2 separate regions of the Homo sapiens genome follow, and region 1 is linked to region 2. The links come from fine-mapping of genetic effects on gene expression. A gene starts in region 2. The other region holds a variant in brackets. All regions are shown on one strand. Distances are from middle to middle.

Region 1 (5,363 bases), 32 kb after region 2:
TCAACCCTGGGCTGGCTAACTCTAGACTTCTTTTCACATGAGAGCAAAATTTAACCTCTCCCTTATTATAGCCACTGTTATTTTGATTCTCTGTAGCTTGTAGCCAGGTGCAATTCTTAACCGATAGCAAAGCTTTTGAGCACACCTGATGCCTCACTTCCCATCTCTATTCATGAATAAAGGGAAGTTTGACATGGATATAGCAGGGTGTCCCTGAGGCATCTGTACTGGGAACAGAGCCTGCTTTTTGTGGGCCTGGGGGCCTTGTGTTGGCTTGGTCCTGTTTGCAGGAACGGGCATGCCCGCTGGTTTTATCTCTCAGAACTGGAGGAGGAGAATGAAGTCGTTTGGTGCAGAGGTGCCCTGGGAGGGGAAGGGGCAGCAAGAATGGTGGAGGTGGATGCTGCGAAGTGACGGCTGGGCTGGGGCCTGGGGATCTGTTTCTGGGAGTGGTAGCAAACTTCTGGGCTCAGGCAGTGTCCCTTCTGGCCTGGGTGACAAAGAACAGTGCAGCTATGGGACAGCACAAAGTCGTGTGTTTCTGCCCCAACCCTAGCCTAACCTTGACTCTCTAGGACTGGCAGCCTGGGAACACTGGAGGCCAGCAGAAGCAGGGGATGCAGAGAGGATGGGGCCAGGTGGAAGCCAGGTGTGGGCTTGGACCTGAGCATGTGGGAGACACTCAACATGCCCTGGAATCCCCAGGGGTGGCAGGTGCTGAGGTGGGCTGTGCTCTGTGGGTGTGCAGCCGGGCACTAAGAATCTTGGTAATTTAGCTGGAGAGCTTGTTTGTGCCCCGGGTAGCCGAGCTGGACATGCAGGTTGCAGAGGGAGTTGGAAGCTGATGGACTTAATGAACATCGTAAATCCCACGGCACTCCCGCATCGTGCCTCCCTGTTGCCTGGTGGAGACTTACCTCTTCAGAAAGCTGGTTTCAGCAATCGCTCCATAAACATCCTTGAAGTTCATGGCCCTCTTTGCTGTCTCGGAGCTCACGCTGCACTTTCTCAGTCTGTTCCATGTTTGCTGATTGAATCAGCAATTCAGCCATTTGGATTAAAAGGCATACACAATTTTTTTTTTTTGAAAGCAAAAACATCTTCTGTTGAAGCAGCTCTGCCTGACCTACCATTTGCCAAAGGAGATGTTCTCAGAAACGTGTTGTTGCCAATGCTCAGAATAAAGATCTGAAAGCCTGTAGCAAGGATCAGAAGCCTCATGGCCAACATCTCTGCATTTATAAAGCATGATTTCTCCTGTGAGTTTGGTGAGGAGATATTTTAACCCTCATTTTGCAGATGGAGAAGGTACGGGGAGGTCTTGCATGTGATGATGAGGCCAGTCATTGGTGGAGACTCCAGGTGTCTTTTTATGTCATCTCACCATCCCTTAGACTGTTAGCTTCAAGGGAAGATGGGCTCATTATTAGCCCAAATATTGACTTACATAGAATAAAAGTGGTAGCTGATATTTGAGCATGGACTCTGAGCCTGGCCCAGGACCAAGTGGCTTTGATCTGTGATTTTGTGTAGTGTGTGTAGCTTACCCAGCTCCTGTTCCTCCCACTTGTGCTTTCTGGTCCCTCCAAGCTTGCTCTAGGTCAGTTGCTGGAATGCACGGGATGCTGGGATAGATGCTCACCCATTTCTGCTGGTCACAGATGAGGAAGCACCTAGCCCTAATGGCAGCTGGCAGCCAGCCTGTCACCCCAAGGACACCATACCTCAGGGTCCAGCTGAGGCTATGGATGACAGAGGAGAGAGGGAAGAGGTCAAGTCCTGAGGACACAGCTGAGCTGCTGGATCGAACCAACCCTGAAGTCCACCCTACTGCTGAACTGTCCTTTAGCCAGGCTGCATCTCCATTTATCATTTTATTTCTTGGCACCTTCCAGAGCCAAGAGAGAGAATCTTCATGTCCAAGGGTCAGCATGCAGCTCATAGAGGGGCCGGAAATCACAGCTGTGTCTGTGCTACTTCTTCCCATCTTCAGGTGCCATGAGTGAATCAGGAAAAGATATTGGTACTGTATTAGTCTGTTCTCATACTGTTAATAAAGACATACCTGAGACTCTGTAATTTACAAAGGAAAAAGGTTTAATTGACTCACAGTTCCCAGAGCTGGGGAGGCCTCAGGAAACTTACAATAATGAGAGAAGGGAAAGCAAACACGTCCTTCTTCACAGGGCAGCAGGAGAGAGAAGAATGAGCAAAGATGGAAAGCCCCTTATAGAACCATCAAATCTCATGAGAACTCACTCACTATTATGAGAATAGCATGGGGGTAACCACCACCATGATTCAATTACCTCCCACCAGGTCCCTCCCACTACATGTGGGGATTATGGAAACTACAATTCAAGATGAGATTTGGGTGGGGACACAGCCAAAACATATCAGGGACTAAGGATACCAAGTCACGGGAGTCATCAGCTCAGTTCAATGGTGTGTCAATTAACAAAGTGTTCTGCAGTAAGAAATCACCCCATCTGGGTGATATGTGTAACTGGCAGAGGAAGTTGGCTCAGTGATGGGGAGCTTCTAAAGAAGCCTGGCCTGGCTGTGGTGTGGGATGTGGACACTGGCCCAACAGAGGGGCCTGTGGCTCCAGCAGAGGGGACATGCAGGTAGCCGATGGCCCAGAGCAGGGCTGTACTCCTTCCACCACACACCACCATTCTTCAGGTGCGGTGACAAGGCAGGGGAAGCTGCTGGGATCTCTTGGGACTTCCAAGGGGCTGAGGTTGTTCATTTACCAGACTTCAGTGGTTACTACAGAGGGCTGTCCTGTGGCCCACAGGGGGCAGGGCAAGAATGAGAGTGGACTTGGGGCCGGGTGTGGTGGCTCACACCTGTAATCCCAACATTTAGGGAGGCCGAGGCAGGTGGATGAATTGAGGTCAGGAGTTCGAGAGCAGCCTGGCCAACATGGTGAAACCCCATCTCTACTAAAAAAATACAAAGATTTAGTGGTGGCCCGCGCCTGTAGTCCCAGCTACTTGG[G/A]AGGCTGAGGCAGGAAAACCACATGAGCCCAGTGGGTGGAGGTTGCGGTGAGCTGCGATTGCACCACTGCACTCCAGCCTGGGGGGCAGAGCAAGACTCTGTCTCAAAAAAAAAAAAAAAAAAAAAAAAAAAGAAAAGAAAAGAAAACAAAAAGAGAGTGGACTTGGCCCAGAGGTGGGTGACGGTCAGTAGCCACCTGTGGAGCCTGGGGCTCTGTGCCACGGTGGCCTCTCTGGAGATAAGGTGGCGGGTGCCAAAGGGAGGGACCCTCAGGGAGGAGGCAGTGACTTGGCCAGTTCACACTCCAAGTCTGTATTTTGGCTCAGCTGGCCCAGAAGTTCCTTGGCACCCCTTTCCCCAGAGGGAGACGTGTGCAATGTGTGCAGAGCCCCGCAAGGGGAGGACAGGTTGGCTCCCCACTGCCCCCAGCAGAGGGTGGGAGTGAGACTTAAGAGATGGGACCTCAGTTTCTCAGTGGCAGGTAGTGGGGTGCTGCCCACAGCAGCATTTGCAAGCTATGTTCCTTGGAGCTCAAGGAGGTTGGAAGTTTATGATAGATGCTCAGCAAAAATGTTGTCATCAGCCGTGTACTGTGCTGCCTCTTGGAAAGTCATCAAGGGCCTCAGCGCATTAAATGCTCTGAGGAGTCCTGCATTGTTATATGTGTTTAATTCAAGGCTCCCCATGGCACACCCAGCAATGCCTGTGGAGCACTGGGGTTCCCTGGAATGTAGTTTGGAAACTGTTCTGGATCTGGCTTGCTCTGAGCCTGGACATTGTCTTGGGAACAGGCCAGGCTTGTCATGGCAGGTGGTTTATGAACAGAAAGCTGCCTCATTAATTTGCAGGGAGGTCATCTTCCCTTGCACCCATCATCCCAGATCACTCAGCTCTGGGCAGGCCCCTTGCTCTCTCCCCACAAGCCAGGGAGCTCAGCCTGTTTTTTTTTTTTTTTTCCTTGAGACGGAGTCTCGTTCTATTGCCCAGGCTCTGGAGAGTGCAGTGCTGTGATCTCCCCTCACTGCAACCTCCGCCTCCCAGGTTCAAGCGATTCTCCTGCCTCAGCCTCCCAAATAGCTGGGATTACAGGCACCTGCTACCACGCCCAGCTAATTTTTGTATTTTTAGTAGAGACGGGGTTTCTCCATGTTGGTCAGGCTGGTCTTGAACTCCCGACCTCAGGTGATCTGCCTGCCTCGGCCTCCCAAAGTGCTGGGATTACAGGCATGAGCCACCGCGCCCGGCCACTCAGCCTGTCCTTCTAAGGCAGTTGCTACAGCTTTGTCTTTTAGGGTTTTTTTCTAGGAGGGAGAATGGTCCCAGGACTCCCTCCTGTGTGACTCTTGCAGGTCACTGCATGCTGGGAAGGGGAGGAGGGTCCTGATCTCAGGTAGATCTAGGACATTCCATTCCCGGGCTGGTTCCTGATTTCCCTTCTGGGGTTGTTCCCCAGGCCTCTGTAGCGGGGGGCCCTGTTGGGGCTGGGGGAGCTCAATCTCTGCAGCGGACTTTGGGTCAATCCTTTCCTGGTTCTGTTTCTGTTTCCAAAGAGCCATGCATTCACTCACAACGAGAACTTTCTCTACATGTAAGGCTGGAGCTGGGCCCAGGGATAGAGAAGTGGACAAGATGAAGCTTTGTCCCTGCCCTCAGTGGGTGCTCATGTGGTGTGGGGACAAAGACCTTAGCTGATGAGGCCGCGAGGGAGGTGGTTCCAGGGAGCACATGAGAGGGAGGCACTTAACTTTATCCATGGGGGCTGGAAGGGATTCAGGAGGTACCAGGAAGGCTGGAGAACCACAGAAACAGGGTGCAGCTCCCAGAACCCGAGGCAAAGTCAGGCCACGGGAGCGATCGGCCGCTGCCACCATTGAACACTGGGTGCCACGCCTGGCCCCACTGCAGCCTCTGGCTCTGTGCCCCAAAAGCCACCTACTGTCCCTGAAGTTGGACACTGTGGCCAGAATGGACGGACTTGACACTGTCCCTAATTCTTTTTTTTTTTTTTTTTTTTGAGACAGAGTCTCTCTCTGCCGCCCAGGCTGGAGCGCAGTGGCCTGATCTCGGCTCACTGCAACCTCCACCTCCTGGGTTCAAGTCATTCTCCTGCCTCAGCCTCCCCAGTAGTTGGGATTACAGGCATGCGCCATCACGCCTGGCTAATTTTTATATTTTTAGTAGAGATGGGGTTTCACCGTGTTGGTCAGGCTGTTCTCGAACTCCTGACCTCAGGTGATCCACCTGCCTTGGCCTCCCAAAGTGCTGGGATTACAGGCATGAGCCACCGCGTCTGGCCTCTCTCTTTTTTTTAGAGACAGGGTCTTGCTCTGTTGCCCAGGCTGGAGTGCAGTGACACAGTC
Region 2 (5,363 bases):
GGCATGGGCCACCACGCCAGGCTAATTTTGTATAATTATTATTATTTTTTTTAGTAGAGACGGGGTTTCACCATGTTGGTCAGGCTGGTCTCGAACTCCTGACCTCAGGTGATCCGCCCGCTTCAGCCTCCCAAAGTGCTGGGATTATAGGTGTGAGCCACCCAGCCAGACGTGATTTTTTTCATAGTAAGTCTTTGGCAGTTTCGGAGGCCAAGGCAGGCAGATCACTTGAGGCCAGAAGTTAGAGACCAGCCTAGCCAAAATGGTGAAATCCCGTCTCTACTAAAACTACAAAAATTAGCCAGGCATGGTGTCCCATGCCTGTAATCCCACCTACTCAGGGGGCTGAGGCAGGAGAATCGCTTGAACCTGGGAGGCAGAGGGTGCAGTGAGCCAAGATCACGCCATTGCACTCCAGCGTTGGTGACAGAGTGAGACTGTCTCAAAAACAAAAAACAAAAAACAAAAAAACATAGTAGGTCTTTGAAGCACGTCACAGGCCAACCCCATCTCACCTACTTAGCTCCGCCCTGGGCAGCTCAGCCCTAGACCCGGCTGGACCATCAGGAGGCGCTAATGCTCTGGGAAGAAAGGAGAGCAGGGGAGGGGTCAGGAGCTCAGGAGCTCTGGGCAGGCTGGTTGGAGTTTTAGTAACTGGGGTGCTGGGGTGGGCCTCAGAGAGGATGTGAAATTGGAGCAAAGACTTGGAGGGGAGAGTTTGTCGTGTGGACATACCTGAGAACAGCATTCTGGGCAGAGGGAACCGCTGAGGGAACAGCAGGCGTGGTGCAGCTGGAAGCGGGGGGTATTGGCAGGTCGGGGGTGGGCAGAAGGTGCTCGAGCCTGTGGGCCTCCTGGGACTCTGGGAGTCCTCCTGAGGGAAGCAGATCTCAGCTGAGCCTTTCCCTCTAGGCCCTGAGGTACAGGAACCGGAGAAACGTCCCCTCACCCCATCCCTCAGCCAGTGACACCGTGGGAACAGCAGGCTTGGGAGTGCAGCCTTCTCGGCACTGGAGTGTCAGCGGAGGCCCCAGGCAGCCCAAGAGCTCAGGGAGCCAGGGACCCCAAGGGGAGTCCTTGGACAAGGAGGCCTGGGCCCTGAGATCCTCCACGGTCAGCGCCGGGGCCCGGAGATGGAGCTGGGACGAGTGTGTGGACAGGGGGGATGGCTGGCCCCCACGAGCAGCTCCAGGCTGGAGTTCTGGTTCTTCCAGGTGGCTCCCGCTGAGGCAGCGGTCTCTGGGGGATCCCCCAGCTGAAGGAGGCTGGCAGGAGTTGGCAAGAGAACCCCCTGCCCTGTCCAGGTGGGAAGCTGAGTCCCAGTGCTGGGGGACTGTGGCCTGGGCTGATCTTGAGCCTTAACTGGACATGAGGGGCATGAGAATAAAGCTGAACTGCAGCCTCCTGAGTCTTGCTCTGTCTGTTGGCCGCACTGGGTACCTCAGGGCACCAGGACACATGCCGCCCCAGTCCTGCTGGTTGGTGGGGGTCTGTGGGCAGAGGGCCCCTGCCTGGACAGGGCAGCACAGGCCTTTCTCCAGGGTCTTGGCCAGTCCGGCCGGCCAAAGCCCGGATGTCCTGGTGAGGTGGAGAGGGGATGACATCCTGGGTAGCCAGCAGGGATTGGGGTCTAAGATCTGGGCTCAGGGGTGTGGGGCAGTGAAGCCCCTGTTGCCCCGCCCCCACCCTCTCCCAGGGCACTGTCTTCTCTCTGTTCACATCCTCCTCCTACTCATCTCCCCTCCCTCCTTGAGGTTGAGCCCCCTCCCCAGGGAGTTCTCAGCCTGGCGGGGCATCACTTAATGCCAGGGGTTGCCAGGAGAGGTGGGAGGGACGCTGGCTCTCTGACCAGGGCCTCTAGCCTGATGCCTGAGAGGCGGGGCAATTCGGCTGGGGTGCAGGATGTGAGTCAGGGTACCTGGGGCCACCCAGGGGAGGGTGGAGCTGCCCAGGGCTGAGATAAGGCAGCCTGAACTTGGGGGGTGCAGAGCTGGGAGGGACGGTCCGTCCGGCCTCCCAGGTGTGACCTGCAGCAGCTTGAGTTCCTCCTCCTCTCAGCCAGGGCTTCACAGGACAGGGGCGTGGGGTGGACACCCTGGCCTCTCCAGCTGGCAGAGGAGCTGAGAGCCCCTCCCACCGGCCTCAGGGTGTGGGGCCTCATGGCTGTCCCACTCTGCTAGGTGGCCCCATTGGTGGTCAGGAAGGGAAAGGCAGGAAGAAGACGGAGCAGGGGCTCAGGAGGACCAGTCAGCAGGGGCCCTGGGCCTCATGGGGAGAGGGGGCAGCCCCGTGTGGCACTGACATCTCTTCTTGAGGCCTGCTCAGGGCTCTAAGCTGGGTACTGCACCAGGCTAGGAGACAACAGGAGCAGAACACGTGAGGTGCGCATGGCACCTGGTGGGCTCTGCACGGTGACTGGGGGCTGAAGTGCTTCTGCAGGCACCCCCGACAGAAAGCTGGTCAGAAAACTGGCCACTCCTCTCCTTGCCATGGGGTCCCAGGCCGGGCTCCAGCCCCCTCTTGGTGATGAGGCTCCTCCTTGCAAAGGCCAGTCCTCTGGGGAGAGGGGCCCTGCTGGCCACCCCCAGGACGATGGAGTGGGGTGGGCTCCACTGCCTGAGAGTTGGGTGACTTCCAGGATCCAGACCCCCTCTCAGCCTGCCCAGCACCAGGCACCTCGTCCCCCACCTTGGGGCACAGACTCCTAATGTCCTCCAGCCACTGGCTGCAGCCGGCATTCCCGGGCAGATTCCTGGCTTGGGGACTAATGCCCCAGAGGCTCCAGGTTACCCACGGGCTCAGGGATGGCTCCCACGGGGTGTTTCCAGTTCCCGGGAGAGTCGAGTAAGGTCCCGGAGCGCACGGCCCTGAGGCCTGGCCTGGGGGCTCGGGAGACAGGGCGGCCCCAGCCGGCCGCCCACCGGCAGCCCGGCGCTGTCACGTTCCAGCCGCCTGACTCAGGCCGCGCAGGGCGGGGAGCCGGGAGGCGGTGCCGGCGCCCGCCTCGGCCCCGGAGGCGGCACCAGGAAGCGCCCGCCCCGGCCGGAGCCGCCATGTAACCGGCGCCGCCCGGAGCCCGAGCCGCGCGGGCCCCAGCGACCCGCCCGCCATGGGGGACGAGGACGACGATGAGAGCTGCGCCGTGGAGCTGCGGATCACAGAAGGTGGGTGTGGGGCCTGACTGCGGCTGCCCGGGGCAGGCCGGGACGGGTCATGGACCGGCTGGGCTCATTCGCCCCCTGTGCCCACAGCCAACCTGACCGGGCACGAGGAGAAGGTGAGCGTGGAGAACTTCGAGCTGCTCAAGGTGCTGGGCACGGGAGGTGAGGACCCCCATCCACCGGGCAGGCGTCCCAGGCGCGGTGCCCCTGACCTCCTGCCTGCTCACTCTTGGGCCTGGGCCAGGCCACTGAGCAGGCCCCCCACCCTTTCCCGGCACAGCCTGCCTTGCCTGCCCCGCCCTGCCTCGCCAGAGTTTGCATGCCCACTTCCAGGGCACTCCACATTGACATCACTCCTCCCTCCACGGTCCTGTGCGTGCATACCCCCCTGGATTTGCCAACACCCTGGGGAGGGGGACTGGCGCCCCTCTCAAGTGATTTGCATAGCTCCTCCCTTTCTTCCAATATGGGATCCCCCTCCCACATTTTGCAAATGCCCCAGCGCTGGTTTGCGCATCCCTTCCCCAGCCAGGTGCACACCTCTGCCTCCCTTCCTTGCACTGGCATCTTTTCACATCCATCTGATCTCTCGCAGGTTTGCATATGCCCCGCCCCCATGCCTCGCAGCAGGCCCCCTGGAGATGCATGCTCCCCAGCCTGGTTTGCACATCCTTTCCCTGGTTTTGCTGGGCACCCTCCCGGGGTGTGCACACCCTTTCCTTAGAAGGCTCTGCCAGCTTTTTGCACACCTGCCTGTTGCCCCAGCTCCTTCGCCTCATTTGCACACCCTCCTGGGTTGGCATCGCCCCCACCCCCCAAGCCTGCACCAATCTCCCGCTCACAGCCCACCCTCCACCCACTCGCTGCTCCCACAGCCTACGGCAAGGTGTTCCTGGTGCGGAAGGCGGGCGGGCACGACGCGGGGAAGCTGTACGCCATGAAGGTGCTGCGCAAGGCGGCGCTGGTGCAGCGCGCCAAGACGCAAGAGCACACGCGCACCGAGCGCTCGGTGCTGGAGCTGGTGCGCCAGGCGCCCTTCCTGGTCACGCTGCACTACGCTTTCCAGACGGATGCCAAGCTGCACCTCATCCTGGGTGAGCGCACACCACATCCCAACGGGGTTGGGGTGGCTGGGGGCAGGCGAGGCCACCTGACGGGGCTGCTTCCTGACTTCCACTGCACCTCCCAGACTATGTGAGCGGCGGGGAGATGTTCACCCACCTCTACCAGCGCCAGTACTTCAAGGAGGCTGAGGTGCGCGTGTATGGGGGTGAGATCGTGCTGGCCCTGGAACACCTGCACAAGGTGGGTGAAGACCTGGCCGCAGGCTGTTGCTATGGAAACTGGGTCTGTGCCTTGGAAGGAATCTGCACGCAGGGCAGCCTCAGGCTTCCCCCTGGGCTTCCTGGGGGGCCAGTGGTGAGCTGGGTGGGAATTGGAGCTGCTTCCCCTGGACCCCTTGCAGGAAGCCTCAACGTTGCCTGGTGGGGTCCCCTCCCCTGGCACCTCCTCGAAGGGGCTTTCCTCTTTCAGGGAACTCGGGGCTGCGTTCACAGAACTTCCTCAAATGGAAACCTCACGGCCTGGCTCCTAAGGCCTCCTTGAAATGGAGCTCTTCACACAGACTTTCCTCTCTCTGGGACCTTGGGGCCTGATCCACGGGGCCCTCCTTCTTTGTTTTATATCTTAAATGGCCTTTCTTATTCAGTGGCTCTGCCCTGGAGACCCCCTCTACAGGCAGATGACTTTCTCTGGGGGGTCTCCTTATCCTGAGCAGGGCCAGGAGCTGGAGGAGCTGGGGAGGGTTTCGGGGAGGAAGCCTCAGCACCCCTCTTGCTCCTACCAGCTCGGCATCATTTACCGAGACCTGAAACTGGAGAATGTGCTGCTGGACTCCGAGGGCCACATTGTCCTCACGGACTTCGGGCTGAGCAAGGAGTTCCTGACGGAGGAGGTGAGTGGAGGCCACCTCTGCCTGCAGTGCCCCATTCAATCCTTCTCCTTCCTGCCTCTTCCTGCTCTGGGCCTGCATTCTGGGGCTGCAGAAGTGAATAGCTCCAAGAAGTTTCCACAGCTCAGCTCTCCAACCTCACAAGTTGAGCGAGTCTTACTCTGGGCCTTGTGGGGCACTGGGGCACAGGAGAGGTTTCGACATCTAAGCAGGACCTCTTGCCCTCCCAGAAAGAGCGGACCTTCTCCTTC

The links. PIP is the estimated chance that this variant, and not a neighbour inherited with it, causes the effect.
Region 1: its variant is fine-mapped to the expression of RPS6KA4 in whole blood (TOPMed, PIP 0.97).

Annotation. Positions count from the first base shown.
Region 1 is chr11:64,388,231-64,393,593 of GRCh38, forward strand. LOC124902688 (a long non-coding RNA gene) reads left to right here. Exons shown (of 2, transcript XR_007062718.1): 2 at 1,896-2,083. Among named protein-coding and RNA genes, the nearest start is that of LINC02723, 4.9 kb to the right of the region's middle. The variant G/A (reference allele first, on the strand shown) is at 3,004.
Region 2 is chr11:64,356,127-64,361,489 of GRCh38, forward strand. RPS6KA4 (ribosomal protein S6 kinase A4) reads left to right here and starts at 3,036. Exons shown (of 17, transcript NM_003942.3): 1 at 3,036-3,164; 2 at 3,252-3,323; 3 at 4,037-4,255; 4 at 4,351-4,466; 5 at 5,008-5,115; 6 at 5,343-5,363. The coding sequence starts at 3,110. It overlaps CCDC88B (coiled-coil domain containing 88B), which reads left to right. Exons shown (of 27, transcript NM_032251.6): 27 at 913-1,408. The coding sequence ends at 968. RefSeq lists a silencer at 2,822-3,311 and enhancers at 3,061-3,588, 4,322-4,431.